Linked DNA regions of Homo sapiens. The protein of the gene in region 7 purifies or fractionates together with the protein of the main gene of each other region. This does not show direct contact. Each region holds a gene or a part of one and is shown on either strand. Other genes may lie near its edges.

Region 1 (3,500 bases), on a different chromosome or scaffold from region 7:
TCCCAGGAAAGCCATGGCCTACGTGACCAGGAGGCCACGTCCTCCACCACACGGACCGCAGGTACTCACTTTTCCGGGACGCGAACTCCTCATCTGAAGGCTTCCGTTCAGGTTTGCGCTTGGGCAGCAGCTTTTTCATGGTCTTAGGGCTCTTACTAAGATCCTAGGGAAAGACAAAAGAAAATGCTAACATACTCTAAAGCCAATCATTTTCACTGGCATATCAGAAAGGCTGCTGTAAAGGTATAAAACCCCAAATTATTATAGCCACTGATAAGAGCTTCTCGCCTTTTCCTACTTTGATTTTTCTTTACCAGCTTCTGAACGTTAATTTTTAAAAATCAATAGGGCATTTTCAGTATTAGTCATTGGCTAATTTTTTTTTTTTAATTCTAATAAAACCCCTCGTGTCATTTGGGTCCTGTTAGTCCTGTGATGAGAGGTGTCACCAGGAGGCAGGCTGGCGCTGGTGTGCACAGACATCCTGCACGCTCCTGAGGGAGGAGGAGAGGAGGGGGCAGCTGCTCCCTAGGACAGACCTATCCCCTGGCACAGCTAACTGGAAAGAGAGGAGGAAACTAAGGTTGTCATTAAATGACAGATAAGTAAAAAATAATTGCTTTAAGAAAATATTTGAAGTTTCAGGGAGAAGAAAAGGGAGCGAGTGCTCAGCTACCTGACTCTGAGTGCCAGGAGCACAGCCAAGCTCGGCCAGGGCTGCTGTGCAGGGGCCACATGCACACCAGCTCAGAGTGTTCACAACGGAATGGCCCACCCCTTACCTCTTCAAACAGCTTTTCAAACAAGCACAGAAGACGACGGCAAAAAACAAAGTGAGCAAAGCAAGTCCCAACAGAGCAGGTAAGGTGTCAACTGTCAAGCACGTGTTAAATACCGATATCAAAAAAAGGCTGGTTTCTGCATCACCCCAACGACATAAACCATCACGAATGCTAAACGCGAGACCAAGACTCAGAAGATGAGATGTGCTATGGAATGAACCAGGCTGGAAACAGAGGAAACAAAGCTTGGTTTTTAAAATTATCTTTAAAAGTCTTTTCTTGGGAGCTAAACAATGGGTACACATGGACATGACCATGGAAATGACAGACCCTGGGGACTCCAAAAGGCGGAAGGTGATGGGGGTGAGTTTTGAAAAGCTACCCATTGGGTACAATGTTTCCTATTTGGGTAATAGGTACCCCAGAAGCCCAAACCCCAGCATCACCCAATACAGCCACGTAACAAACTCTGAATCTAAAATAGCCTTCAAAAAGTTAAACAAAAGTATTTCTATAAAAAATTGGAAAGCTCTTAGAAATGCAGCAGCAATCTGTTCCAGAAGACACATTTATACACATGTGCTCATGGCTTCCCTAATTCGAAGCAAATTGAGATGGAGAGCCTTGAAGAGCCAACGCCCGCCCCTCACGTGCTCCGAGGGCACCTGCAGGCGCAGAGGGTCACAGAGCACACAGCACACCTGAGCCAGAGCCAGGCAGAGCGGGCTGCAGAGCGGCCTCCACGAGCCTCCATGTCCTCTTCTCACACCCTGCAAGATCACTCTCCACGCTACTGCTGGGCGGTGCTCAGCAACACTGGACGGCAGCTGCTCGGTGTGAGCCCTTCTCTCCCAGTGTGGAGTTGGCAAAGCAAATGCAGCCAGACTTATCAAAAAAAATTGTTTATCTTCACTTCAATACCCCTTCCGTTGCCCTTTCTACTTCTTTGCCCAACAGTTTTATCCCAATTTTCTTCCCTAGTAATTCAGTCTCCACCAGTTCTTGTAGTAGCTCACTTTTTCTTTAGACTGTGCACACTAAAGTATACAATAAGGAACAGCAACATTCTTCAAGTAACTTCCCATGATAGAAAATGGAAATTCTGACTTGCACACATGATTACCTGAAAGATATCATAAAAACAAAGACTCAGAACAAAAAATGAAAAGCACAGATCCTAATTTCTCATACAGTACTTTCCTGTGGGCCTTAAAACCCCCAGGGCTGCCGGCAAGAATGTAGAAAAAGTCTGCTCCAGTTCCCTTGGCAAATGTGGCCTTGACCAGACACAGAGGCACAATGCCAGGCAAGAGCGTGTCACCATCCTCACGCTCACTCACACCCCACCAACGGGCACTGCTGCTCACACTGACGCGCACGATACCCACACTCTCACCGCCACTCCTCATACCTCACCACCATGCACGCTCAACTGCTTATGAAAACAACTCTCATCTCAATTATCAGCTTCCTCAGGTGAAAGTACTTCTCAGAACAGATTTCTAAAGACACTTCCTTTCCTCATCCAAGCTGGTTTAGGTAAAAGTGTAAGGAAGTGTTAACACTTCTATTTATTCATTGGAATCGTACTTTATTTGCGCCTAGCAAATATAAAAATGCCGGATGAGAACAGAGACAAGCAAAGACCGCATCATGATTTCTTATGCATCAAAGGGGGAAACCGCCTAAGTGATTGTTTTTCATTTGTATTAGTAAATGTTCTCTTCATCTCAAATGGCTTCTGGATGACAAAATGCAGGGCTCCTGGACAGGATCCCCAACCTAGAGGAGGGGTCGTTAGACGCAGCAGACAGCGTGCAGATGCTGAGCGATGGCCTCACACACAGGGAGTGAAAGCCACCTGGGCTCAGCGCCTTTCCAGCTCCTGGCCCCTGGCGGCACACTCCTCCGGCAAGTGCAGTAAAGGCCCCCCTGTGCATGGCAGAAAGGAGGGGGACCCTGCACATCGCCTTCCCACACAGGTTACCACGGGCCTCTCAGCAGCAGAGCAGATAACCAGAGAACCAAGGCAGACCCCCCCTTCTCAGTTCTCTAGGAGTTAGGGTGCATTTTGCTGTACACAGAAGGCCCAGCACGTGGGCACACCCAGGGCCCGAGGCATGCTCACCGTCATCTGGCTGTTTGAGTGGTCAAGGGACCTCACCTCCTTGTAGCAGAGAGCAGCTGAGGGCCGGAGGGGAGGCGCGGGCCGCAGGCAGCTCAGGCTCCAGGGCTTGGGTGTTTTCGGAGGCTCCAGGGGTCCCCAGTTGATGGTGGTGTGCGGGGTGCCGTGGTGGGAGGGGTGGGGCAGCGTGTGGTAGGCGGGCGTCAGCGGCGCGGGCTTGCTGTCTGCGTGCTTGCTGGACGGAGTGACCGGGTGGGAGGGGAGCTGCCAAGGGCACAGAGCGGGAAGGGCAGAGAACATGAGACTCGCGTGCTCACCGCGAAAGGGCACTTATCACGCACTTCCTTCTGCTCTTTAAACACTCCATGTGAAATAAACCTCAGGATTTATCATTTCATTCGTATCTCTGGCTCTCAGCAGTCAGTTTTTGGGGCCAAACACTAGCTCGCGCCACCTGGGCCGAGCGTGGGGCTCCTCACGGCGTCTGCCCCAGACAGGAGGGGCAGCTCTAGCTGGGGCCCCAGCACTCAAAAGACATCCACTAGCCACATTTATTAGCTACGGAGTAACATTTATAGAAAAAAGGTACTTCA
Region 2 (3,500 bases), on a different chromosome or scaffold from region 7:
AGCAGGTATTGCGTGGAAGGCCTCATCACCAACAGACACAGATTTCTGAGGCTCCATACTCACCAGTGAGTTCTTCCAGAGCAGGCTGTCCAGTCTTGGTGAAGTGGCTGGGCTCCACGCTCACACCTGTTGAGCTTGACTCGGCAGTAACATTCCCTTCAGTGTCCGTCTGAGACCTTCACACACAAACCGAAGCAGACACACTTGTCATGAGAGGCAACTACCACATCTGGACCACTGTGGTCTAACCACAGCCCTCACCATCACCTCCTGTAGCAAGAAGCTTCAGAACAGAGTGGACCAGCAGACTGACGCTAAATAATTCATTAGCCGTATGTGGAGCAATGTCCTAAGAACAGAGAGAGCCGCTGAACTGTAAAAGATAAACTTTTCATTGCCCAGATGGAGGGTCTGCAATCCCTCACTGGGGAATGCTTCTCTGAACCTCCGTCAGGATGCTAGGTCTAGCCAGACACATGCTGGAGGGTACGGGGTGATTTGAATAATTTAACCTATGCCAAAGAACAGCTTCTAAGTAACCAGCCATGCCAACAAGTCAAACATAAAGATGACTCTATTAACAGCTCCCCCACCCCAAAATTCTCCTGACATGGTTTTCTCTATAAAGGTGACCATAAAACCAGTCGGAAGTGGGTGCCAAGCAGGTGTGTTTGCCCTCCAGGTCTCTGATTCAGAGCTTAGTTCTTCTGACATGAAAGGTCTCATTGATCATTATTTCAACACTTGACTGAAATCTGTACTTCCCCAAACCCTCTCCATGCCCTTATTTGTCAAGCAAATTGAAGCAACAGCTTCATGCAATGTTTTCTTGTCACAGCTACCTCTGCTCATTCAGGCATGGCATGCAAATGCATAATTACACTCAGATGCATGACCCTGCATGTAACATTATTAACGCACTGGCATGCTGAACTAATTCAACCGATTTCACTACCTGTGAAGAAAACGTTTGCCCAGAATGAGAATGGACCACGGGGGATGTACTGATAAACCTCAAGTCATCCAACTGTTCTTCCCTCCTTTGTTCTTCCTACTGAGGCCATCGTTCTCAATTCTGTTATCTTTACCTTTAAAGGATTTCATACTCCCTGTGCTCCTTTCACCTCCAGCCAGGGTCCAAGCCCTCATCATCTCTGCTGAGGCCTTATGAGTACTTTGAAACAGGTACCTCACACCTAGAGGTTACAAATGGCAGCCCGGTGTGGAAACCAGCCCAACTTATTCCTACTGGTCTGCATAATATTTTAAAGTTTTAAAATTAGTTCAACATTTAAAAATCGGGATATTTCACAATAAATATCTGCATTTCTGCCTTCGTCCAGTAAAAACAATAAAGCTTGGAAAGGACTGTCTTTGTTATTGCAGATCGCCACCTGCTGGTGCCAAGTGGTGGCTGCACCCTCTAAAGAGGCGTGGCTCCCTCTGCCACAGGCCCACTCACCCTGAGCCACCCATCTAGATGACCATTTAGAGGCCAATTAGGCATCTGAATCTGTGATCTCCATTCTACACTCTTCCTAAGTTTGGTCTACTCCCCACACGATCTTTCATTGACTTTTGTAATACTGACGTGATGACATCACTGTCTTCGGTGGTTTCCATTACCCACAGAATAAGGTCTAAACCCCTTATTGTGGTAGATGATGGCCACATTCTTCCTTTATTTCCAGCCCCATCTCCTGCCTTTCCAACTCTTTACATACAACTCTACTATGCTGCACCCACATGTGGCTTCTCTCCACATGGCTTTAACAGGTTTATCTTTGCAGTAACTACAACCTCTCTGCCTAAAGGCCCTTCTCCTCCTTCCTTAGTTCGCTGCTAATCTGTCTTTAAGATGCAGCTTCCATGTCATCTTTTCCTGAGAGCTTTCCTTGACTCCTTGCCAGGAGTTCCTACAGCACTCTCCTTATTCTCTTGTTGGCTAAAATGTGATCCTATAGCACTCTCCTTATTCTCCTGTTGGCGAAAATGTAAATCTTTCCTCAACTAGATTGAGAGCTCTTCAGAGGCAAAGGTTAGTTCAAGTTCATATGCTACACAGGCAACGCAAGAAGGGTGTGTTGACTGGATAAATAAGAAATGTTTAAGTCTCAGAAGATGCTAGGTACTAGAAGGAACATTAGACTTGGAAGTCTAAATATTCGACTAGCTCCAGGTCTAAGATCTATAACTTGTTAGCCATGCAAAACTTGAGTTGTCACTCCACCTCTTTGAATCTCAGCATCCTCATCTGTACAATGGGGATAATAATAGCAATCTCCTCTGGTTCTATAAAAATGAAAGGTGATGTGACACACAACTCTTAGTAAACTATAAAGTGATAAAGTGATAGATGAATCCACTGTTACTTCTGAATTGATAAATATAATTCATTCTGAGTGATTTTTAAAAAAATGACCCATCTTCCCTTTACTCCTTGGTAACAACTTTAACATGGAGAGGTTTTGGTGGGCGGGGGGGGAGCAATTATAAGTTATATATAGTGAACCATAAGCTTGAGGGAGAGAATTTTAGAGCAGAAAAGGAGAATAAACCATTTTATAGAATCTAATCTAATCCAATCTTCTCATTTTCCAGATGAAGACAATAAAGATAAAGTGATTTAGAGTCAAGACTGGTGGTTAAGAGCCTGGTCTCACTAGTTAGACAGACTTGGCTTTTTGGTTTGTTTGTTTTTGAGACAGTCTCGTTCTGTTGCCCAGGCTGGTGTGCAGTGGCGTGATCATGGCTCACTGCAACCTCCGCTTCCCAGGTTCAAGGGATTCTCATGCCTCAGCCTCCGGAGTAGTTGGGACTACAGGCGTGCACCACCTCGCCAGGCTAATTTTTGTATTTTTAGTAGAGATAGGGTTTCACCATGTTGGCCAGGCTGGTCTTGAACCCCTGACCTCAAGTGATCTGCCCACCTTGACCTTCCAAAGTGCTGGGATTTCAGGTGTAAGCCACCATGCCCAGCCTACACCTGGTTTTAAACATGAGCCCCTCTAGTCTAGTTCTGTGACTTGGGGCAAATTGCTTAATTACCTCTAAGCTGCTAGCTCATGGAGGTGTGGGAAGAATGAAGTGAGCTAAGATGTGGAAAGCCCTTAGCGGACTCTGTACCCACACTCGATCAATACCTGTTCCTGCAGCCAGTGCCGAAGACCTCAGAGGGCACCAAGGGCTGATAAAGGACAGGGCCCAGGTGTCCTGATTCGTATCCTGGTGCTCTTATTTCCAGCGTCACTTCCCAGACTACCCTAAAGATGAAGGCAACTCAGAGGGGACAGAAGGACGTTAGTTACCCAGAGTGGGCATTAACGTAAAAACGGGGCTAGTCAGATCCACATCATAGACGTTTTCCTCTTCCTCCTCTTTGTCAGACATTTGCTTTTTATCATTAAGACTTTTTCTTCTGATAGAAAAGCTTGAAATAAAAAAAGGTTATATCTTTTATAATCTTTCAAATGATTATAGCGAACAACAAAAAAAGAAGG
Region 3 (3,500 bases), on a different chromosome or scaffold from region 7:
ACAGAGGAGGAAGACTGTTCCTGGCAGAGGGTGGCCAGCGTGGCCAGAGACGAGCAGGACAGGGATGCCGAGGCCAGGCACTGAGGTAGGTGAGGGGGTTCAACCTGATCACGGGTCCCGAGCAGCCAGGAGGGCTCTGAGGTGAGGGAGTGAAGCCACCAGGTCTGTGAGCCTGGACGTGGTGACCAGATGGCAGGAGGGACACCTGTTGGGGCTCTAGTGGTGTTCAGGGGAGGAAAGAGAAGGGCCAAGATGCGGGAGGCCGGCCCAGGGCTGTTTTGGAGATAGGCCAGAGTGGGAGCAGGAAGGGATCCCCAGAGGCTGCTGGGGCCACCCAAGGGGTGGCCAGGAGAGAAGCAGAGGTTTAATCTGGGACAGACAGGAGGTGCTGTGGGACACCATCGAGCCTATTCAATGCTCTCTAATAGGAGGAGGGAATTGTGAGCCTAGAATGGCTCAGGCCTGCTAAGCCCTGGCTGGAAGAGGGGCACTGTGGACAGTTCCAGGCGCTGACCCCACTGTGCGGCATGTGGGCTCTTCCTCCCTAAGTCCTTAGGGATGACCAGAGCTGACCAGCCCTGGGAGTTGCCCCTAACACCCCAGGAGCCAGGACAAGCCCCCATTTCACAGATGAGAATCCCAAGGTTTGGAGAGGGTTAGTCCCTCGCCTGAGGTGTCAGAAGGAAGACAGGGCCAAAGAGGGATCGCAAAGCCTGTGCCTTCACTCCCTCACCGGCTTCTCTCTCACTGGAAAGAGGCACATGGTGCCTCACAGCCTCCTCCCAGGGTGGCTCTGGCTCCTCTTCTCTCCTAACTCCGAATCTCCATAGTCGCCTCCCCAGCCTGCCTGCCTTGCCTATACCCAAACAGCTCTCCAGCGCCCCCCCTTCCATGTTCTTTGCGTCGCCCCGGGGATTCACCTCCAGGCCCCACACCTGGGCCTCCCTGCCAGCACCCACTCAGCATGGACCCTTCTCTCTCCTGCCCCCTTCCTCTCGGGTGCCTGACCCCTCCAAACCCTCCCCACAGCGGGGACTCCACCTTGGGCTTTGTCTAACACTCAGGCTGGGAAACTTTATTCAGCGAGTCCTACGCAGTAGTGGATGAGATTGGATCCAGAAAAAAATAAAAAAGAAATCCTACACAGTTACTAAGCCAGGGAGAAAAACTGCATTCTTTTATGGTGACAAACGGACATGAGACTCTGAGGAACACCCCGAGTTCTAGGGTGGAGAATTTGGGGAACAGTTTCACAGCCCATCACCTTCATGAGGACTTCCAGGTTCTGAAAACTGAACGAAGAAGGCAAGGAGAATCTTCTAGAATCATCAGTCTTAGAATAGCCACAGACTCTGCCTACAAACTTTGCTAAAAGGGCGGCTGTGGCAGGGGCCTGAGGTGCAGGATGAAGAGAGTGGGAAGTAAGAGATGCAGGGAGCTCACAGCCCACAAGAGGGCTGTCCTTATCAGGAATTGCTAACTTGGAACAAGCCTTCTGGAAGCCTAAAGATAAAAAACACAAAAGAGAATGGGGTGGGCAGAGGGAAAGGTCCCAGCACCAAGTTAAATGTCTGATCAGTGAGGGATTTGGAATGCAAGGGGTGAAGGGTGGTAAATTAACAAAACACAAAACCCTTCTCTTCTTTTAGAGGCAGAATTGAAAGGTAATTTATTTAAAGTGGACACATACAAATAACGTAGGAATAGGGGTGCTTGCTACTGAAGGTTCTGGGGATAGACTAAATTTATTGCTATGGTTCACATTTACTCACAAGTAGGAGTAAATTTAATGCAACCCAGGTTACAGAAGGCAAGCAGGTAAAAGGATAAAGAACATAAAACAACTGGCAAGGCGCTGTGGCTCAGGTCTATATCTCAGCGCTTGGGGAGGGTGAGGCAGGAGGAGTGCTTGAGGCCAGGAGTTCAAGACCAGCCTGGGCAGTGAGATCGCCACCCCCCCCCCACCCCCCATCTCTACCAAAAAAGAAAAAAAAAGAACATAAAGCAAAAAAGGAAAAATCACTTTGAGAGCAGGAGGGACACTGACATTCAAACGACAAAGGGAAGACTGTGAGCTGGAGAAATGAGCAGAGGCTGGGAGCCCTAGTAGGTCAATGAGGAGGCGGCACGTCCTGCCAGCCATGCCCCAGCAGAGCTGTAAGGCATTCGAAGATGGCGTGAATTTCCCAGCAAGCTTGGCTGCCCTCAAGCAGTGCAAGCGGCCAAGGGCCCCTCTTCTGCCTGGGACTGCCCTGGCCCCTGGAGCTTCTGGGAGAATGTGAACGATGCAGAGCTGCCCCCAGCAACTGCCAGTGCCTGGGGCCTCCTCCCACTCCCTTGCAATTCCAAGTGATCTGGAGGCTCTACTGTCTCACCACAAAATGTGCTCATGTGAATTTATGATTAGGATCCAAGTGAGAGGACAGCATGCTCCCCGCTAGAGCACACAGAGGGCCCCCCTGGAGAAACCCCTGCCCACAGTGTAAAGCCCCACTGTCAAGGGCAGAATTCAAGACCCTTCACTTCCACCCCATTTGCTGGTGACGTCTGCTGGACCTTTTGGGATGCAGGTGCCTCCTTCTTGCCTCCTGACCTTGGGGTACTCTTTCCTGTGCCGTGAGCCCCTCCCCACAATCGGCCTGTTCCCTCAGGGAGGGTGGCTCCTCCTGTCTGCACTACAGACCCTGATTCACTGTGGCCACCTGCCTGCTCTCTCTGTGCCTTGTGCCCACTATCTGCACATGCCTCAATGGTGTCTGTGCCATGTGTACTAAGTAAGGTCTGGGGGGTGTGATGATGTGTGTGTGTGAAGCTCTGTCTGCATCTGTAGAGGGGACAGGCTGGCTTACTCTCAGGGCCTGTGCCAACTGCCTGCTCTTGTTACAAAGGCAGGGTGCCCAGGGCCATCTTACTTGCTGGGGACCAAGCACCCTTGTTTCTGCATCACCAACCTAAGGCAAGGGGTGAGGAGAGAAACCAGGACACAGCTTTCTCTCCCTGGAGCCCAGATGTCGAAAGGGACAGGAATCATTTCCTTCCTTTTCCCAATAAGCTCCTGAATCTGACGTACACCATGGCACACCCGGCAGGAAGGAGAAATTCCTCACCAAGGGAAACCAGAGGCAGCCCTGGGAGTGCCTGGAGGGGCAGGGGACAGTGCTGTGGTTCTTTGAGGGATCAACTGGAAGAGACAGCATCAGGAATGGCATGGAGGCCAGCGGCAAGCCGCAGGGAGTAGGGAGAGCTGGGAGAGCACCAGAGGCAGCGGAGCCTGGTGCTGGGCTTTCCTGAGCAGGGCACACCAGTGAAAAACTCCGAATAAGAGGGACGTGTGCATGAGCCTGTGCAAATCACCAAGAGCCCGGGGTGGGCATGGGAGGGACATTGGACTCCTGCATCCCAGCACCGCCTGCCTGGACCAGTCTGACCAAATGCGACTGGCAGCTGGTTCCTCCTGGATCAGGGCCCCACTGCACACCAAATGGGTGCTCACCCTCCTA
Region 4 (3,500 bases), on a different chromosome or scaffold from region 7:
GGCTGAGGCAGGAGAATCGCTTGAACTTGGGAGGCGGAGGTTGCAGTGAGCCGAGGTGACGCCACTGCACTCCAGCCTGGGTGACAGAGACAGAGTGAGACTCAGTCTCAAAAAAAAAATTTTTTTTTTAAAGCATGCCATGTTGGTATAGTCAGGACACTTGAATATCACGACTTGAGGAGGTTGATCATTAGAGTGCTCAACAAAACATGCCTATTTCTTTATAATACACTGTTGGTTATCTTCACAATAGCATTCTTCCCTCCCTCAGTTGAAGAGTAGCCTCTGATATTAGTAAAAATTCATAGACAGTATTAAGTGCTTTTCCCTTTTAATTACTCTCTACTTCTCAGGAGCTTGCCTGGGCCAGAACATTTCTAAAACTGGAGAGAGTTAGAGGGCTATACCTCATACCTGAGCAAAAGCTGAGTGCAGACCCTGAGAAAAGCCAAACTTGCTGATTTTAAGCTTCTTGCTTAGGACCAGGATTGGGAGCCACACAATTGGGAGGTTCCAGTGAATGCAGGCAACAGAGGATGAAGCAGGGCCAAAAGGTGGATACCTGGCAATAATATCTTCCTTATTAGGGTTAGAACATTCAGAAGTCTCCTTTATTAGATGCCAACTTTTTTTGGGGCGGGGAGTGGGTGGCAAAAGAGACTCATAAAATGTACCATTTTATGTATTTACAGGGTAGAATTTAGTGGCATTAAGCACATTGACAATTTTCTACAACATAGTGGTTGTCATTTCACCACTATCTAGTTCCAGAACTTTTGTATCAGAACTTTTGTATCACCGCAAAAGGAAACCCCATGCCCATGAAGCGTCAGTCCACATGTTTTCCTCCCCCAGCCCCTTGCAACCCATAATTTGCTTTGTCTCTTTATGGATTTGCCCGCCTATTCTGGATATTTCCAGCTATTCTTATATGCATCTTTTTTATTCTTCATCAACTAGCTGGTAATGAATCTTGCCCTCAGCCTCAGACATCGGAACACCTGGCTGCTATAGAGATCATGAAACTGAAGCATATTTTGATTCTACAAAATAAAATTGATTTGGTAAAAGAAAGTCAGGCTAAAGAACAATACGAGCAGATCCTTGCATTTGTCCAAGGTAAGAAGCCATAATATGAAATAAATCTATGAATCACTTTGAGAGGCATTTACTCTGGATACCAGATGTTAAATTAACTTTTAATATATTATCTAAAACAAGGTAAACTTACAAGTCTTAAGCCTTATCGCCCTACCTTTTGCTTGTTAGTAACCTGATATAACTAATGAAACCTGTGATTCTGAATTTAATATACTAAAGTATATTTTTGCTGGCAGCAAGTTAGAACTGAGGTTGTTTTCTGGAAACTTTATCAATCAGATTAAAAAAAATCTCAGTGACAGTAAAATGAATAAAATAATTTTAAAAAACCTTGTCTTACAGTATTTGTTACTGAACAGCTTTCAGATTTGGAAGTGACAGTGATTATTTAATCTCTAGAGTGTCGGCCGGGCATGGTGGCTCACACCTGTAATCCCAGCACTTTGGGAGGCTGAGGCAGGTGGATCATCTGAGGTCGGAAGTTCGAGACCAGCCTGACCAACACGGAGAAACCCCATCTCTACTAAAAATACAAAATTAGCAGGGTGTGGTGGCACATGCCTGTAATCCCAGCTACTTGGGAGGCTGAGGCAGGAGAATCGCTTGAACTTGGGGGGCGGAGGTTGCGGTGAGCCGAGATCACGCCATTGCACTCCAGCCTGGGCAACAAGAGCGAAACTCCATCTCAAATAAATAAATAATAAATCTCTAGAGTGTCCCTTCTCTAATAGCATAATGTTTTTCATTTCAGAGGAGATGTGATTTATTGTTGACATTTTCTCTCTCAGTCTTGTTTTTCTTTTTAGAAAGGTTAATTTCTTATGAACTCAGTTCTGTCATCACGAGAAGTAATAAGTGAATTTGATTAAAGTCTAATTGTGTTTGGTCTATTTCTTTGACTAGCTTGTTTGACGTATAATCAATACGTAGCAAATATATATGGTTGGGCGTGGTAGCTCACACTTGTAATACCAAGACTTTAGGAGGCTGAGGCGGGTGGGTCACTTGAGTCCAGGGGTTCAAGACCAACCTGGGCCACGTGGTAAAACTCTGTCAATACAAAAAATTAGCTGGGCTTGGTGGCACACACCTGTGTTCCCAGCTATTATGTAGGAGGCTGAAGTGGGAGGATCGCTTGGGCCTGGGAAGTGGAGGTTGCAACAAGCCGTGATTATGCCACTGCAGTCTAGCCTGGGTGACAAAGCGAGACCCTATCTCCAAAAAAAAAAAGTATATATGCCAGCAGTCTTTGATTAGCAGAGTCTGTAATTTTATCTTGACATTTATTGGGAGATTAATTACATGTTGTTAGAAATTTTTTCAACTAGTAGAGTGCTCTTTCACAGGAATGTTAGTATTTTCTTTATTTAAATAAGTTTATCATTGTACTAATATTAAGTATGTCTACTAATATAATGTAACAAATTTTCTCTTACAGGGATTTGTATTCATTTTCAGGAGTAAAAACAAACAATATTGCCATCTTTCTAAACAGAATTATCCACTTTCCACTTGTTGCTGACATTTATATGGGGTTTAGGCATCTATTTTATTATAGTAATCTTAATTGTTTTATGTAACAGATACATAGAATAAATTTTATAAAACTGTATAATTTTGATCTTTCTAAATTTTGTCATATAGGTACAGTAGCAGAGGGAGCTCCCATTATTCCAATTTCAGCTCAGCTGAAATACAATATTGAAGTTGTTTGTGAGTACATAGTAAAGAAAATTCCAGTACCCCCAAGAGACTTTACTTCAGAGCCCCGGCTTATTGGTAAGTGATAGGATTTGCCTTTAACTCTTAATCTGATCTTTTCCACATTGGTGATTCCTCTTCAAGGATGTTTATTAATATTTCCTCTTTCTGCAGAGGTGATAATTCATACAATTTTTTTGAAATCAATTCTGAGATTGTATTGGCAGTGCTAGATTGTATTACTGAATGAGGGACAGAGTCCTGAACACAGTAAGAACTGTTAACCTAAGCCGGGCGCAGTGGCTCACGCCTATAATCCCAATACTTTGGGGGGCCGAGGTGGGTGGATCACCTGAGTTCAGGAGTTTGAGACCAGCCTGATCAGCATGGTGAAACCCTGTCTCTACTAAACATATAAAAAATTAACTGGGCATGGTGGCGGGTGCCTGTAATCCCAGCTACTCGGGAGGCTGAGGCAGGAGAATGGCGCGAACCCGGGAAGCGGAGGTTGCAATGAGCTGAGATCGCGCCATTGTACTCCAGCCTGGGCAACAAGAGTGAAACTGCGTCTCAAAAAAACCCAAAAACAACTGCTAACCTTTCTGTGCTTAATATATGGTACATGATCAAGATGGAGTAATACAGTATTCTCCATGGAATCATAATGTTTTAGGGTGTTAGAACTTCCTGACTAAAAC
Region 5 (3,500 bases), on a different chromosome or scaffold from region 7:
TACATGCTGGGGCACCAGAGGACAGAAGCAGATTATGGGGGGCCCAAGGGTGGAGGCCCCAGCAAGACACCCCACTCAGCAGGGGTGGCTGCCAGACAGCTGAGCTCAGGTCCAGATGGGAAAACGCCCTGGTACTGATGAACCTCTGGGAGGACACTGCCCTTCTCTAGCCTGGGCCAAAAGTATGGGCAGGCGACTGGCTTCCTGTCCAGGCACCGGGGAAGGGCAGGCACGGCCTACAGCTGAGGGCTTTGTTTTAGCTTTTAGGGTTTGCTTTTTCCGGAGAGGAGAGGCCTGCATCCCTGCGTGAGAGGGGCCTACAGGGTGCGGCTGCAGTGAACCAGGGCAGTGCACAAGTGAAGAAACAGACACTGCAAGAGAGTAAGAAAGCACGTAGCCAAGGAGATTGGACAAGGGAAACAGACACAAAGCATGCCTGGAGCTGGGCAGCAGAGCTGGAGGCCCACAGACACAGGGGCCAGGCCAAGGGCTGGGCAATCAGAGACCACTGCTGGCTGCCATGGGAGTGAACATGGCTTCCTAAAGATGTTCAGCATCCCTGCCTCAGTGGAAGGGGAATCAGAACGTGCCTGGGGCTTCCATACCTTCTGGACCCAGCAACCTGGGGACCCAGCCCCAAGGACAGCTGTGACACGACTCTGGGCCTTCATGAGGCTGAGAACTCATTAGATAAACAGGGTGGAGATCGTGAATTCCTAAATTTACAGCGGGGTGGGGCCTAACCCACCCACTGAAAGTTGAAACTTCGGACTCCAATCTTTCCCTACCTGAGTGGCATGTGCACGTGCAAAGATGCATACACACAGGTACACACAGGCGCACACATGCACAGGCACACACGTAGACGCACGTACATGCACACAGGTGCACACACGCACAGGCACACACAAGCAGACGTGCATGCATGCACCCAAGTGTACAGGTACACGCACAGGTACACACGCACAGTACACACATGCAGATGCAAATGCATGCACACAAGTGCACACAGACACGTGTGTATGCACATAGGTGCACACAGGTACATAGATGCACGCAGACACACATGCATGCACACAGATGCACACATGCAAAGGTTCATGCATGCACAGGTAGACACATGCAGACGCAAATGCATGCACACAGGTGCACACACGCACAGGTACACACATGCAGACAGGTGCACACAGGTACACACGCATGTGCATGCATACAGGTACACACAGGTACACACTGGTATACAAAGACACATGCACAGGTGCACACACGCAAAGGTACACGCAAAGGTACACACATGCATACACACAGGTGTACACACGCACAGATGCACACACCTGCAGGCACACAGGCATTCATGGATACACGTGCATACACACATACAGATGCACACATGAACTGATATGCACACACACACAGATTTACAGACCCATGCACCCAGATGGTGCACACACACGCATGCATGCACAGACAAACGCACCCACCCAGATGTACACACATCCCCCATACAAATGCATACACATGCACACAACTGTCAGGGCAGGGCACTGTTCAGTGTACAGTTCAGCAATCAGACTTGGGTTTTGGCCCATCTCGCCTCCTGCCTACTCCAGTCTTGGGCAAGCACCTACAGGGTCAGGTCCCGGCATCCTCAAGCACAGCCCTAGCAGCAGCCGCCTTCATCCCCAGTGGTCCCACGTTCCCCAACACTGCCCCCAGCACACGGAGGAGCACTGTCCTCGTGACACCCGTGACAAGGAGGCGGCCAGGGCTCCGGGAAGTCGCCGGACAACTCAGCACAGACGCCCGGAGCAGCAGATGCTCCCTACAGGAGCAGGCAGAGGTGCCACACGCCCACCACAGCCTCACTCACCTCCAGGATGAAAGGCAGCACCGGGATGAAGGCCCCCGAGCTCCCCGAGAGCAGCGTCAGGGCACGGATGCAGTGCATTCGCAGCGGGTAGAAGCGGGCAGTGGGGATGAGCCTGGGGGTGGGAAGGCCGAGTGAGCAGAGGCCCCGGCTCTGGCAGCCCCTGCCCCTCCCCCTGCTGTCTTGGACCTCCTCCCCCACTCACCGACATCAGACCCCTAAAGCAGGACAAGGCACGTCTGAACCCCAGGGACCTGCACCCCTTGCCCAGCTATGGGGCTGCAGGTACCTTACCCAGCTTTCAGCTTTATTTCAACACGGTGGCAGGGGTCATCTGTTCCTGCCTGCTCTCCTCCCTGTTCCCGCCTTTCCTACTTCTTCCCTTGGACTTCCCACCTCCCTTCCCAGCCTTGAGTTTCTAAGGCTCAGCCAGACAGATGCCCCCTCCTGGCCAAAGAGGCCACAGTACTGCTCCCACCTTTTCCTGCTGCAGCCCCTACCGTGCCTGGACCCTCCTAAGCGCTCACACCCAAAATGCAGTTCACTGCATCAGATGTGCTCCACCCAAGAACCCCACGTAATGAACCAAACTCACTGCAAACTGCACACAAGCCCCCAGAACACACGCTGGGTGGCACCCGAGGCGGCTAAACCGCTGTTGGAGGAGCTCATGTCACAGGTGCCCACCAGCCCTAGCTCTCCAGAATCCAGAGCATCTCCCCGTAGCAGGTACAGGGACCCCAGCCCTTCCTCAGGGACGGCCAGGACACAGACTCAGGCCCCAAGGCCCTGAACGCCAGAGGCACCGCCCACACAGTCCCAGCAAATTTGCTTCTCCTGACCCTCCCGCACAACCCTGCCCACCCCACAACTCACTTGATACAGCCAATGATGACTTGGGCAAGGGGGTAGACCAAGGGCTGGAGGGCTTCGCTGGGGCCCGCAGTGCTCAGGACCCGGCACCACAGGAAGAGGCAGTGCACATACTGCCAGTTGTACACAGACTGGTATGTTTCCTGGTCAGAGAGAACCACGTCAGCTACTGGCCAGGCTGACAAGTCAGGCTGATGCACGTTCCTCCTGGGCCGGCACAGGAATCATTTCCTCATCTTGCACACGGGGTCTCAACCCATCCACCCTTCCCCCACCTGCAAGGACCGACTGCACCAGGGTGCTGGGCTGTCTCCAGACAGGGGCTTCGGGGAGGCCCCAGGCCCTGCCTTGGGTCGGGCACCTGGGCTGCCCCACCCCATGCCCAGCATGAGCCTGGAAGGGCCCCACCACACACCTTCTTGCGAGTGGTCATGGCGTTGCGCAGGTGTATGGCGAGCTGGCGGATGTAGAGGAAGGCGTGCTGGTAGGCCACACCCGGCTCCAGGGCCAGCAGCTCCGTCAAGGTCCACTGCATGAAACTGATGAAGGGGAGGGCACCAGGCGAGGTGAACTTGCAGTTCCTCACATACGTGATGTACATTTGCTGCGGAGAGACCCGGGTCAGAGCCACCTGGGATCAGGGCCATGCACCTCCACCGCCCACTCCAGGGCCCCTGTGAACACCTGGGCCTTTCCCTCAGAGCTGGGCCTCGAGGAAGAGCCGTAGCCCCTTGCACAGCCCCCACCCCCAAGTGCCCAC
Region 6 (3,500 bases), on a different chromosome or scaffold from region 7:
GTTCTGCAGTCGATGGCCTGCCGGTGTCTGCAGGTGCCTGTCGGTGTCCTCTTCTGCTGGTGTGTTCCTTTCGACGTCCAGCCGCTTATGTGTTCCTTTCGACGTCCAGCCGCTTGTGTGTTCTTCCGCCAGTGTGTTCCTCTCGATGTCCAGCCATTTTTGTCTCTGCCTGCTAAGGTCTCGGGGTTTTTATAGGCACAGAATGGGGAGGTGGTGGGCCAGGGTGGTCTTAGACAATGCAACATTTGGGCATGAAAACATAAATGCCTGTCCTCACTAGGTCCATGGGCACAGGCCCAGGGGTGGAGCCCTAGCCAGGGACCCCATCTTTCTCTACACAGCACTTCCCTGCCCCCTTCCTGTATCAATTTTATGTATAAAACAAGGGGTTGGGAATGGATGATTTGTGGAGTTCTATGTCTAACATAGCATTGTCCATGTGAGAAAAATCAGTTAAAATAAAATATTTTTTATGGGTTTATAGTTCTCAGTTCAAAGTGAACAATTCAGAGTAAAAAGCAGGGAAACATAAATTATCAACAAAATACTAAAAATATTTATCTTTTTGCAAATAATTAAAAGAAATGCCATAAAATTCCATTCTAATCTTCTGTGTATCCACAAGTCTGTATGGATTCAATGGCAAGAATAGAGAGAGACACTGTCTCTGCTGACCATGGCTATCTTTTCTGTAGGTTTAGTGAAACTTCCACTTTGCTAAATGACCTTGGCCTAGGATTTGAGCACTATAAGCACTGTTTTCAATATAATTTTGGTTGATCTCTTTGGTTAGCAAACATATTAATCAAACATCTGATATCCCAATAAGCCTCTGTGGTAAGCAAAGTTGTATTTATAGGGATGTTTTCACCATGCCACTTATCAGATTAAAAATGTTTTCAAACAAATGTAAAGAATGCCTGGTCAGCAGTTCAGAATATTTCTAAATGTTAAAAAGAAGTATATGTAGAGTTATTTTAGCTTTTGGGAAAAAAAAAAAAACCCAGAACTGAAGTAAATAGCAAAATCGAACAAGGTAGTTATATTAGAGAGAATTAGACTTGGCTGCAAAAGCAGAAAAGTCAACATAACAATAGCATAAAGAAGATAGACGTTTATTTCATTTTCATGTAAAGGAAATCTGGAGTTGAGCAGTCCATGTATGGCTGGTAGGGAGACTTCAGGAAGTTGTCAGGGAACCAGGCTCTATTTTGGTTGCCATCATCGATTTGTGGCTCACACCTCATAGTCTTGAGTAGATAATTGCACTCCACTTAATTAAAAAGATACACCCTGTTTTATTAAATATTCTTCCACACTGGCCTCGTTATAGTTCCAAGGCCTTACCTTGCTCCAATGGAGACTGAAAAATGTAGTATTTGTTCTAGGCAGCCATGTGCTCAGCTAAGAATTATGGGTTCAATTTCTAGGAAAAGATACTATTGATAGTACCCACAATAGACGACTGTCATTAAGAAACATTTATGTGGGGTACTCTGCTAGTCCTTGTACCAAACAGTTTTATGATCTGGTTTGAGAGAACAAATTTACATATGACAGTGTCAGAAATGTGTGTTCAGTTGTCACTCCCTTCACCTGTTGTTTCAATTAGTGCAAATGCCATCATTCCAGTCATCTAATCCCGAATTCCTAGACTAATATCTGGTAAAGTACATCACCATTTCACATCCCATAACTTGCCAGAAGTTGAGAATTTTACTTCAGTATTATAGCTTGGGTTTATCTTCTTCTGCAATTGCTCATCCTTTGATGGCCTTTAAAGTTTCCTATCAATTATTTCAGTGATTCCAAATTGGTATCGTCTCCTCCTGTGTCTCTCTACCCACATCCATGCAGCATATTCACCATCCTGCTTAAGAAGAAAACTTTATTTGCTTCTCATATCTTATAATGTCTTCATTCAGGCATTCTTGTCTCCCAGTTGTCACTTTCTCTATTTCCGTCATAGCTCCATCTAGCTGCTACATCCCAGATGTCTTCTTCCTGGGTGTCCCAATTTCTTCAGAATGTTTAGTCCCACTGTCCTTTAACAAATAAATAATACTAGTTCCAGACTCTATGTCATATGCAGTTGGAAAATCCTCCACAATATTTCAAGGGCTTATGTTTTCCTTAGCTATATCTTGTTCTGATTTCTTTCTTATCTCAAATTTTCTAATCTCTCTCATATGGATTTGTTTTTCCATTCTTCCTGGGCATACACCCAAATGAAGAACAGAGTCACTTTGCCTTGGAACCTTTACTTAACATTCTGGAAGTTAAGGTTAAGAAAGAGTGTTCTATTTTGTCACAGCTCAGCAAACAACATCCAATTAAGCATTAAACATCCCTGTTCATGAAAGTTTCTTGGCCATACTTACTGTGGAGCACTTCCTGGCTTTTACATCTCAATCCCCAGTCTCCTTCCAACTTGGTCTGCCACCTTTCTTTTACTCCTATTTTCATTTCCAACTTCTTTCCAGTCTTGGGCTCACTCATTCCTTCCCTCTCAGATTACTTGTGCAAACTCAAGATTCTGTTTTACATTATTATGGAAAGCAATTATTTTTTGTGGACAAGCCTTGTATTTTATAGAAAATTTTTTACTTTATTCTTAAAACATTTCAAAGAAAGTATTATAATCTACATTTACAGAGAAATAAACAGAGAGAGTAGGAGTCATACATAGGATCACACAGTTAACTAGTAACAAAATCCAAAATTTGAATTAAAGTTTGTTCAAAGGAAGACTTTTTTCTATGTTATTTTATTTATACTTTCTCTTAATGATGTAACAGCAATATTTTTTCTGGGTTTACCCTATCATCCAAATCTTACCCACTATTTAAGATTATTTCAAAGGTCAAATAAAAGTATAGACAAATTGGTGTGGATGCTATAAGGGAGGAGAGATTACATCCGCTTGGGGCAATCCAAAGAAATTTATTCAAAGAGTAGAGGCGTTTATGTCCATGGTAGAATGTATGCTTATTTAATTCCTATTCACTCTGCTAGTTAAGGGCAACCATGGTAAGAATTATTTCTTGCTGTTGTGTTCACACAGAGCTGGCACTAATGCTTTGAAAACAGAAAATACACAAAAACAGTAGTTAAAATAAATATTTAAAATAAGCATAAATAATATTGTCATGCAAATGTATTGTATAAATAGTATTGCTAATGTGGACAATTCTTTTGCAGAATGTTAGGGCTGAGAGAAATTGTATATGAATGGAGCATTCAGAAAAGACCGAATTTTTGAAATTTAATGAGCAGATAGGACTCAGATATATAGAGTAAAAACATTCTTTTGAGGAAAAGTTATGTAAACTTTTAAAGTTTAAACTTTAAACTTTAAAAGTTTACATAACTTTTCCTCAAAAGGGAAGTAAACAACTATAAATGAAGCATAATATTTATGGAAAACAGCAGGTAGACAATGGAGAAAGATCTTATGTAAGAATGAGACCAAATGACACTGGTAATGATATTTAGGAGAA
Region 7 (3,500 bases):
GTGTGTACAGAGGGTTCTCAATCCAGTACATTCTGCCACCTCCCGCCCACGAGAAGTCTCTGCATCAGTCTCTCCCTCAGCCATCTGTCTTTCTGATTCAACAGTGACCAATTTAAATAAAAAGCCTAACACAAAAATCAGGCAAATATGTTTAATTTTTTAAAATAACTGATGGCAAAATAAAATATTTACATCACATCATACTGTGTAAACATGTAAGGTCTCTGTACAAAGAAATATACATGCAAAATAATGTAAAAATTTAACTGAAATAATAAAAGAAACAATACACAAATAAAAATTATGAGGTTACGAATACACATCCAGTTTCGAATCCAATTTCTTTTAAAAAGTTTCTGTACAATTTTACAAGAAGAAACAAACAAAAACCCAACAAAAGAATAAATAAAATACACTGGAAGCTGCAAAGCTTAACTACGCCAGTTTATGGCTCAAGACCCAGGTGTCTGGCTGGCTTGGGAAGCGGGCTGGTCTCTTTTGTAGTGCAGTTCACACGAGAAAGATAAAAAGACATCCAGAAAACTTCGAGGGTGCCCAGAAACCCAGCCTCCTTGAGTTGAAAGGACTCCCCACACCAGTGCGAATGCTGCCACAGTGACTCGGGCATTGGGTACCAGCCGCGGGGCGGCCAGTGCTTAATCGGCTTTTATTTCTTACCAAAAGCTCAAAACCCAGCCAATTTTTATACAGAAAGTTCAACGTCAAAAAGTCTAAAAAGTAGTAAATGTCCAGACTGATTTTGGGAAAAAAAATAATACTTTGGCATTCTGAATAATAGCATAATAAATTTTAAAACATTACCCTATTATCCAGTTTTATATTCAGAGTATGAAATCACTTTTACAGTCCTCAAAACCAACAAATTTCACGAAAAGTCTCTTTGAACCGATGGCACAGGGCTACGACCCTACCCACCCACCCGCCAACCCCAACACACACACAAAACCATAAAGCTCACCATACGAAGTATGTGCTTTTTCTATATATTTATTACAGGTACAACAGAGGTCTTCATAAATAGTTGCATAAAATGTTAAAGCCACAACATTGCACATGATATGAAGTAAAACCAAAAAACCCCCAATGAGTGCATTTACAGTATTTTCATCTGACTGTGTACTGCTCCACAATCTGATTGACGGCTTGGGGCAGGAACAGGGGGAGGGGCAGTGGGGCAGGACCCAACCTGATGTCTTCATGTGATGGGAAGACCCTCGGACCCCCAGAGGAAGCCCCAGGTGGTGGGTGGGGGGTGGGTAGGGGAGGCAGGTGGGAAAATGACAGACCGAAGGCAGGAACAGTCTTATATACAAGTAAGGCCTACATTTCATCAGAGCAAAACGATTCATTCTATTTTATGCAAAAGTTTGAGGTTGAATGCACGTTTCAGAAGCCACGTCGGGCGTGAGATGCACACAGACGAGGCGCCTGGAAGCTCAGAGCCGAGTGGTCTCTGAGTCCTAGACAAGGCCATGGGAGTGGCCGCCACCTAGGTGCGTCTTCCCCAGAGACGCACAGTATCTTTGTTCATTAACACCAGTGGTTGAACATAGGCATTTTGTTTCCTTGAATAAATCTTGAAAACGTTAAATTTGCAAAATTCTATTCATGTTTGTTTAAAAAAGTTATCTTTTTATTTTTTTGCAGAAACCTGAATAAAATACTGTGATACAGCAATGCGACCTCTGCCTTGGGCAGAGTGTAAGTGACGGTCCTCCACCCCAGCGCAGCTTGCAGCTCTGTGTCCAAGCACTGCTGAGCACAGCTCACTTGGAATGCAATTTCACACGATGAACATACCGGCAGCTGATCAGTTATGTTTGCTTGTTTTCTCTTGAAAATTCAGATTAACAGCTGATTGGCAGGTGAAAGAGAATGAGAAAGAACTTCTGGATAGGTCAAACTCTAGGCAGAAGCCTGCTCTGCAGAAAGTTTTTAATGCTACGGATAGGTCGAACATCATTCTGGTGTTTGCGCCGCTCAATGAAGGAAGTCAGTCTGGACGTGTCGAGGACGCCCGTGCTTCTGCCGTTGCCGGCCTGCAGCCACTGCTCCTGGAGGGCCAGCGCAGCCGAGGGACGCTTGGCGGGGTCCTCCTGCAGGAGGAAGCACACGAACTCCTTGGCCTTCTGGCTCACTCCTTTAAAGTAGTCATCTGGGAAGCTAAAGTCTAAGCGGCAAATGTTCAGGCAGGTCTCTTCCACACTGTCATCCAGGAAGGGGGACACGCCACTAAGAAGTACGTATGTGAGCACTCCAACACTCCACGTATCCGAGGTCAGGGAGACAGGGTTCCCGAGGATGATTTCAGGGGCTGCGAATTCAGGGTTCCCCAGTAACTGGTGGATGTAGTAGGTCGTGTTGAGCTGAACAGCATCTCCAAAGTCAGCCAGTTTGATGGTTGGCTTGGCTAAACTCTCATCCACCAGGATATTCTCAGGCTGGAAATCAGAATACAACTGTCATTTTCAGACCATCCAATCTTAAGCTTACTCGTGATGATGGGCGGGACTCTATGGTGAGGTGGAAGGAATCTAGGATGTCAACTAGGACAAGCCATGCATGTGCAAAGCAGGCCGGACCACTCAGCTGGCAGCCGAGGGTGAGGAGGAAGAGATGACACAGCGGAGCTGGGACCCAGATCCACACAGGGCAGCTCTCTTTGGAGATCTAAGTGCCAAGTAGCCTAATGAAACCAGGCTGCTTTATGAAGCTGGGTGTTCATTTTCCCTCCCAGCACCAAGGGGAATGCTCTCTTTCCCGCCTAAGCTACCACTGCACCCGCCACACCCACCGGGCAAAACTCATGGGGACTTTCTGAAAGTCGTGGAAGGCTGGGAGGGCTCCGGCGTTTTACCCAGTGTGCTCCTGACCGTGTGCATCACTGAACGCAAACGCTTAGAGAGAGAGATTAGCAATCAGTGTCTGCGCTGCCCCACCCACCCTTTTTGTCCCTAGTCACTTGGGGGCTCCTGGCCTGGCTTCAGAGGGGGCTCTGTGTCCCGCATGGCCAAGCCGGTGTGCTCAGACCCCCCTTCACCTGCCCGGGGCCTCACCAACCTTTAGGTCCAGGTGTGCTATCCTGCAGTTGTGCAGGTACCGGACAGCTTCCAGAACCTCCCCCAGGTGCGCCCTGATCTTCCCTTCAGTGAGGCTTCCCCATCGCACCACGCAGTCCAGGAGGCGACCCTGGTCAGCCCTAAAGAGGCAGGAGCGGGTGACTGTTATGATGCGATTTGCTTTGAAGACCTCTTTGGGCTAGTAAGAAGTAAACATGTCGGACCTGTCACCTGTTATGAATGTGTCATCGGGATCTCAGGGCCGTGCCTCTAAGGCGTGACTAGACAAGGAGGGGGATTTTGTAAAGCTCTGTTGGGAAGATGCGAGTGGGGTACAGGGTGTCTCCATCTTAAGAGGGAAGCCGGTGGTAGAGCGGCACAGTCAAGGGTCCAAACCCGCCTGTTGCGGGGGATGGCGTG

Evidence for each region.
Region 1: the proteins of TRIO (region 7) and ARHGEF7 purify together in Homo sapiens (affinity purification with mass spectrometry, with the first as the bait; one large-scale study listed by BioGRID). This does not show direct contact.
Region 2: the proteins of TRIO (region 7) and NAV2 purify together in Homo sapiens (affinity purification with western blotting, with the first as the bait; one study listed by BioGRID). This does not show direct contact.
Region 3: the proteins of TRIO (region 7) and PPM1F fractionate together in Homo sapiens (co-fractionation; one large-scale study listed by BioGRID). This does not show direct contact.
Region 4: the proteins of TRIO (region 7) and EIF2S3 purify together in Homo sapiens (affinity purification with mass spectrometry, with the first as the bait; one large-scale study listed by BioGRID). This does not show direct contact.
Region 5: the proteins of TRIO (region 7) and NOC2L purify together in Homo sapiens (co-immunoprecipitation; one large-scale study listed by IntAct). This does not show direct contact.
Region 6: the proteins of TRIO (region 7) and NAV3 purify together in Homo sapiens (affinity purification with western blotting, with the first as the bait; one study listed by BioGRID). This does not show direct contact.

The regions. Positions count from the first base shown.
Region 1 is NC_000013.11:111,282,810-111,286,309, reverse strand, and holds part of ARHGEF7 (rho guanine nucleotide exchange factor 7), read right to left. Parts: intron 3,172-3,500; coding exon 2,947-3,171; coding exon of another isoform or gene 2,911-2,946; intron 1,906-2,910; exon of another isoform or gene 1,484-1,905; intron 164-1,483; coding exon 70-163; intron 1-69. UniProt on the Homo sapiens protein: Acts as a RAC1 guanine nucleotide exchange factor (GEF) and can induce membrane ruffling. Functions in cell migration, attachment and cell spreading. Promotes targeting of RAC1 to focal adhesions. May function as a positive regulator of apoptosis.
Region 2 is NC_000011.10:19,936,337-19,939,836, reverse strand, and holds part of NAV2 (neuron navigator 2), read right to left. Parts: intron 177-3,500; coding exon 64-176; intron 1-63. UniProt on the Homo sapiens protein: Possesses 3' to 5' helicase activity and exonuclease activity. Involved in neuronal development, specifically in the development of different sensory organs.
Region 3 is NC_000022.11:21,946,349-21,949,848, forward strand, and holds part of PPM1F (protein phosphatase 1F), read right to left. Parts: intron 1-3,500. UniProt on the Homo sapiens protein: Dephosphorylates and concomitantly deactivates CaM-kinase II activated upon autophosphorylation, and CaM-kinases IV and I activated upon phosphorylation by CaM-kinase kinase. Promotes apoptosis.
Region 4 is NC_000023.11:24,061,456-24,064,955, forward strand, and holds part of EIF2S3 (eukaryotic translation initiation factor 2 subunit 3), read left to right. Parts: intron 1-960; coding exon 961-1,119; intron 1,120-2,745; coding exon 2,746-2,880; intron 2,881-3,500. UniProt on the Homo sapiens protein: Member of the eIF2 complex that functions in the early steps of protein synthesis by forming a ternary complex with GTP and initiator tRNA.
Region 5 is NC_000001.11:949,257-952,756, forward strand, and holds part of NOC2L (nucleolar complex protein 2 homolog), read right to left. Parts: intron 3,345-3,500; coding exon 3,156-3,344; intron 2,884-3,155; coding exon 2,744-2,883; intron 1,983-2,743; coding exon 1,871-1,982; intron 1-1,870.
Region 6 is NC_000012.12:77,833,894-77,837,393, forward strand, and holds part of NAV3 (neuron navigator 3), read left to right. Parts: intron 1-3,500. UniProt on the Homo sapiens protein: Plays a role in cell migration. May be involved in neuron regeneration. May regulate IL2 production by T-cells.
Region 7 is NC_000005.10:14,506,842-14,510,341, reverse strand, and holds the end of TRIO (triple functional domain protein), read right to left. Parts: intron 3,221-3,500; coding exon 3,082-3,220; intron 2,463-3,081; coding exon 1,920-2,462; 3' UTR 138-1,919; downstream 1-137. UniProt on the Homo sapiens protein: Guanine nucleotide exchange factor (GEF) for RHOA and RAC1 GTPases. Involved in coordinating actin remodeling, which is necessary for cell migration and growth. Plays a key role in the regulation of neurite outgrowth and lamellipodia formation.